Regions from separate parts of the Homo sapiens genome. Here region 2 is linked to region 1. The links come from fine-mapping of genetic effects on gene expression. Tissue or cell type: whole blood. Region 1 holds a variant in brackets; the other region holds the start of a gene. All regions are shown on one strand. Distances are between the middles of the regions. Region 1 overlaps SBF1 (SET binding factor 1). Region 2 holds the start of ADM2 (adrenomedullin 2).

Evidence for each region. PIP is the estimated chance that this variant, and not a neighbour inherited with it, causes the effect. A credible set is the group of variants that fine-mapping cannot tell apart.
Region 2: it holds the start of ADM2, and the variant in region 1 is the best candidate, but not a certain one, in a credible set for the expression of ADM2 in whole blood (INTERVAL, PIP 0.83).

Annotation. Positions count from the first base shown.
Region 1 is chr22:50,449,893-50,452,795 of GRCh38, forward strand. The region is part of intron 36 of SBF1 (SET binding factor 1); the gene reads right to left. Among named protein-coding and RNA genes, the nearest start is that of SBF1, 24 kb to the right of the region's middle. The variant G/C (reference allele first, on the strand shown) is at 1,565.
Region 2 is chr22:50,479,716-50,482,618 of GRCh38, forward strand. ADM2 (adrenomedullin 2) reads left to right here and starts at 1,828. Exons shown (of 3, transcript NM_001253845.2): 1 at 1,828-2,048; 2 at 2,122-2,242; 3 at 2,852-2,903. The coding sequence starts at 2,133. RefSeq lists silencers at 1,615-1,904, 1,955-2,074.

The DNA.
Region 1 (2,903 bases):
ATGTCAGACAAGCAGTGCAGCTTGAGAGACAGGAGCCTAAGACATGGGACCACATAAGATGGGCCCCACAGTCACCTGTTTTCTGCCCAGCCACAGTGCAGGGAGGCAGGGCCAGAGCAACACACGGGAGCTTGCTGAGCCGAGGAGGCAGAGACGGGACGTCCAGGGGCGCTAGTGCAGCTGGGTCTGCAGGGCAGCCCACAGAGGGGAGGGAGCACCACAGCAAAGGGGCTCTAGAAATCTAGACAGAGCCCTCCTTGAGTCGTTGGCCAAATTAGGCTGCCATGTGCAAAGCAAGATGTCACAAGGCCTGGCAGAGAACAGCTACTAAGAAGCTATGACCTGACGCCGGCAGCAGTGGCTCACACCTGTAATCCCAGCACTTTGGGAGGCCAATGCGGGTGGATAACCTGAGGTCAGGAGTTCAAGACCAGCCTGGTAAACATGGCAAAACCCTGTCTCTACTAAAAATACAAAAATTAGCTGGGCATGGTGGCGGGCACCTGTAATCCCAGCTACTCGGGAGGCTGAGGCAGGAGAATTGCTTGAACATGGGAAGTGGAGGCTGCAGTGAGCCGAGAGTGCGCCACTGCACTCCAGCCTGGGAGACAAAGTGAGACTCTGCCTCAAAAAAAAAAAAACAAAACTATGAGCTGAACCCAAATTCTAGAGGAATGCTAAAAGATACTGGACTTCCAAAAAGCCAGTGTGGCAAGACCTTACCGAAGACACAAAGACACAAAACTCCAACTGAAGCCCTGGAGAGGCCACACGCCTTGGGCTGCTCTATCCCTGGAGCTTCTCTAGAGGTGCTGGAGAGCTGCCCAAACAAAGCTTAGAAACAAGCTTCAAACAGACCAAGCTGACGCACAAGCTCATTACCTACCTGCGAGAATAAAACCCAAGACTCTAAGCTTAAAGAAAGACAACACAGGCAGGGCACAGTGGCTCCCGCCTGTAAGCCCAGCACTTCGGGAGGCCGAGGAGGGAGAATCGCTTGACCCAAGGAGTGTGAGAACAGCTTGGGCAACATGGCAAGACCCCATCTTTATATATATTTTTAAGTTATGTTTCAAGATTTAAAAGAAAAGATGGACATAATGGTTTATCAGATGGGGAATCTCTACAATAAAAAGCGTTAAATTCATTAGATGGGGCCGGGTGTGGTGGCTCATGCCTGTAATCCCAGCACTTTAGGAGGCCAAGGTGAGAGGACTGCTTGAGCCCAGGAGTTTGAGACCTGCCTGGGTGACATAGGGAGACCCCATCTCTACAAAAAAAAAAAAAAAAAAAAAAAAAAAGTAGCCGGCACGTGGCCCACGCCAGTAGTCTTGGCAACTCAAGAGGCTGAATGAAGCAGGATGATTGTTTGAGCCTGGGAGGTTCGGGCTGCAGTGAGCCATGACTGTGCCACTGCACTCCAGCCTGGGCAACAGAGCAAGACCCTGTCTCAAGAAATTAAAAAAAAATTCATTTGATGGGCTTCAGTATATTAAAAACAAGAAAGAAAAGAGTAGTGAACTTGAAGACAAGCCAACAGAAATCATCCAAAATGAATTGCAAA[G/C]ATAAAGACTGAGAAAAAACAAACAGAGCTTCAGCAACGTATGGGACAATAAAGTTCCAGAAGGAAAGGGAGAGATCATGCAGAAAAAGTAATTTATAGAAGCAATGGCTTGAAATGTATTAAATTTGACAAAAATGATCATCCCACAGACCCAGAAGTTTAAAGAGCCCCAAGCAGGACGAAAGCAAAAACCACAATGGTCAAATTGCTGAAGCCAAAATTAAATGCAAAATCTTAAGGCAGAGAATCAAAGGGTGCCATTATACACAGTTTATAAGGATAAGAATCAACACCAACTTCTAAGCAGAAACAATACAGGCCAGAAAACAAAGTAATATCTTTTTTTTTTTTTTTTTTGAGGCAGAGTCTCACTCATGTCGCCCAGGCTGCAGTGCAGTGGCGCGATCTCAGCTCAGTGCAGCCTCCACCTCCCGGGTTGAAGCGATTCTCCTGCCTCAGCCTCCTGAGTAGCTGGGATTACAGGCACCCGCCACCATGCTCAGCTCATTTTTATATTTTAGTAGAGACGGGGTTTCACCATATTTGCCAGGCTGGTCTCGAACTCCTGACCTCAGGTTATCCACCTGCCTCAGCCTCCCAAAGTGCTGGGATGACAGGCGTGAGCCGCTGCGCCCAGCCTAGTAATGAGATCTTTTAAAGTGACATCAGTTTAACTGCTGAATTAAAAAAAAAAAAAAAAAAAAGAAGCAGCTGTCAACCTAGAAATGCATATCCAGAGAAAATGCCCTTTGCAAAATAAAGGCACCAAGATGTTTTCAGATAAACAAAAGCTGAGGGGATTTGTGACTGGCAGCTCTGCATTACAAGAAATATTAAAAATTCTTCAGGCTGAAGAGAAATAATAACCAGACCAGATTATACTGAAAGAATGAAGAATGTTATAAATGGCAAAAATAGAAGACTTTTTCCTTCTTTCTTAATTTCCTTAAAACAAAGTTGACTATTTAAAACAAAAACAGGGCCGGGCACGGTGGCTCACGCCTGTAATCCCAGCACTTTGCAAGGCCAAGGCGGGCGGATCACCTGAGGTCAGGAGTTTGAGACTAGCCTGGCCAACACAGTGAAACCCCGTCTCTACTAAAAATACAAAAAAAATTTAGCCGGGCATGATGGTGGGTGCCTCTAATCCCAGCTACTTGGGAGGCTGAGACAGGAGAATCACCTGAACTCAGAGGCAGAGGTTGCAGTGAACCGAGATCGCACCACCGCTCTCCAGCCTGGGTGACTGAGGGAGACTCCATCTCTCAAAAAAAAAAAAAAAAAAAAAAAAAAAACCATACTGGGTGTTTATGTCATACGTAAAAATAAAATGTGTGAC
Region 2 (2,903 bases), 30 kb after region 1:
CAGCCTGGGTGACACAGTGGGACTCCATCTCAAAAAAAAAAAAAACATATAAATGTGACACTCCCTGCCCCCTCAACTGGTCAAAATAAGTAAATAATACCTGCAAGGCATCCCTGCCCTCCCAGATCGGCCTGTGGGGTGTGTGCTCGGCACTCCTCGACTTATTCACCCAGCAAATGTTGACTGTGCTCCCATGGTGTGTCAGCAGGAGGGTTACGGGGTGAGCGCAGGGGTTGGGGAGACAGAAGGGGAAGCACGAACGGACGCAGAGATCCTCAGCTCACCCAACAGAGAGGCCAGTCTCAGCAGCTTGGAACCCGTGACACCAAGTCCAGGACTCGTGGACAGTGGGTAGGCGAAAGCTCTGTGGAGAACAGTGAACCATCTATCAACATAAACACATGCTCACCTTCAACCAGAATTTCTACTTCCAGGAAGGTGTCCTATAGACACATCTGTGAGCTCAAGGCAGCAACTCATGAAAAGACTGGCAGTCACCTAATTTCATATTAATAGCAGATGAGATGAATCATACAACACCTATATGTTGGAGTAGATCCAACCATAGGAAAGAGTGGGGTCTCTGATGTGAGGACGGTCGGGCTGTGACGCCTGTCACCCCACTGGTCACCAGTGTTGATTCGGCTGATGTGGCTGGCTCAGAGGCAGGTGTCCCCCTCCTTCCCCACTGTTCCCTGTGCGTCCCTCCGAAGCTGCACGCTCCATCGAAGAGGATGGAGGACCGGGCTTCGAGTAGCTGCGCTCCTCTGCCAGGACCTCCAAACAAGCTCTCAGGAAAGAACGGGGTCTCAGTCCTACTGCAAATCTGCACACATGGATGTGTGTGCCTCACATAGCCACACCTAGGTGTGCCCAGGGCAAGTCAGGAGAGGGCTCCCCCCCAGACCAGGGTAGGGGTCCCAAGTGGGTGGCAATGGTGAGGGGAGTCTCACGTTTCACTCGTTTTAAATTTTTCTTTTTCTTTTTTTTTTTTCTTTTTTTGAGACGGAGTCTCGCTCTGTCGCCCAAGCTGGAGTGCAATGCCGCGATGTCGGCTCACTGCAACCTCCGCCGCCTGGATTCAAGCCTCAGCCTTTCCTGCCTCAGCCTCCCGAGTAGCTGAGATTACAGGCACCCGCCACCACGCCCGGCTAATTTTTTGTATTTTTAGTAGAGACGGCCTTTCACCTTGTTAGCCAGGATGGTCTCGATCTCCTGACCTCGTGATCCGCCCGCCTCGGCTTCCCAAACTGCTGGGATTACAGGCGTGAGCCACCGCGCCCGGACACTTTAAATCTGTTACAAAAACCGTGCAATACTTTGGTCCGGGGTTGGAGCGGCCGAGGGTCGGTACAGCCTTTTAGGAGCGCAGCCCCGGGGTCGGCGGCACCGCGTCAGAGGAGAGCGGAATGGCCAGCCCGCTGCGGAATCCCGCGGACTTGCTGGTCAGGCTGGGGGGCCGGGGTCCACCGGGTCAGACCCTGGAGGGTGGGACCGCCCGGACTCGGGAGGTGGTTGACGGGGTGGGCCCCGTCGGGTCCGAGTCCGCCCCAGCCGTGGGATCAGCTCGGACGACGGTTCGCCCCCCAGAACCCCGCTGCAGCGTGGGGAAGTCCGGCCCCCGCAGGCTCGGGGCTGCGTCCCCACCAGAAGGCGCTTGGAGTGAGGCTGGCGGTCCCGCGGTCCCGGGCCGGTCGCCGAGCGCTCCCAGCGGGGACAGGCCCCTCCACCGCTCCCTTCGCCGCAGCCCCCTCCCCGCCCCGAGGGTGGCTGGGCCCGGAGGAGGGGCGCCCCGCCCCGTCCGTGCATCCGGCTCCGCCCCTTGCTGGAAAGGCTACGTATTCAGCCCTGGAGGTGCCATCCCGGGCCGCGACTCCGCTCCAGGCAGGACCCCCAACCCGCCCAGCCCGCTCCGCCTTGCGCCCCGGACCCGCGGCCGACCCCAGACCCGCTGCCCGCTTCGCGCCCGAGGCCTGCGCCCCGACGGACGCCCGTGCCCAGCTTGCCACGCCCACGCCCGGCGCCCCGACCGCGGAGGACTCCCCGAGGTGCCGGCGGAGGGGGTGGCTCGCGGCTCAGGCTGCCCCCGACGTGCCCGGCTCACCGCCCCCTCCCCTGCAGCCCCGCCCGCCATGGCCCGGATCCCGACGGCCGCCCTGGGTTGCATCAGCCTCCTCTGCCTGCAGCTCCCTGGCTCGCTGTCCCGCAGCCTGGGCGGGGACCCGCGACCCGTCAAACCCAGGTGAGTCCAGGTCTTGGGCCAGCCAACCCCTCTGGCCCCCGCAGGGAAGCAGAGTGCCGGGGGCCGCGGGGCCGCCCTCCCTCCACGCCTCCACCTGCTGCTAGGACTCCCCTCCCAAACAAAGGCCCCTACCCCAGGCTCAGGAGCGCCTGAGCAGGGCCAGAGGCCCCTCTTTCTCTGCCTCCCTACACAGGGCAGTTGCTCCTCCCCACACACATGGGCACAGCAGCCCCTCTTCTGGGGGTGTCTGCTGGGGGAGGGGAGGCTGGCGGTATCCCTGGCCGGCCTGTGACCACCCTAAAGGGAGGGCAGAAGCCGAGTCACCCTGAGCCCTGAGAGTGGTGACCCGCAGAGGCTGGGCCGCCGGGGTGCCCTTTGGCCAAGGAGGTGCCGGTTCCCGGGACACGTGACCCGGGCCACTGAGATGGTCCCAGGCCCAAGCCCAGAGGGGACGCGGGCTTCCCCTGGCCGTGCTCCAGGCTGTGTGTGGATGGGGGCTGTGGGCTTCCCCTGGCAGTGACCCAGGCCTGTGTAGAGGCAAAAGTGGGCAGGTGTGAGTTCTCCAAAAGGCTGAGCCATCTGGTTGACATTCTCCATCTGCCTCTGCAGGGAGCCCCCAGCCCGGAGCCCTTCCAGCAGCCTGCAGCCCAGGCACCCCGCA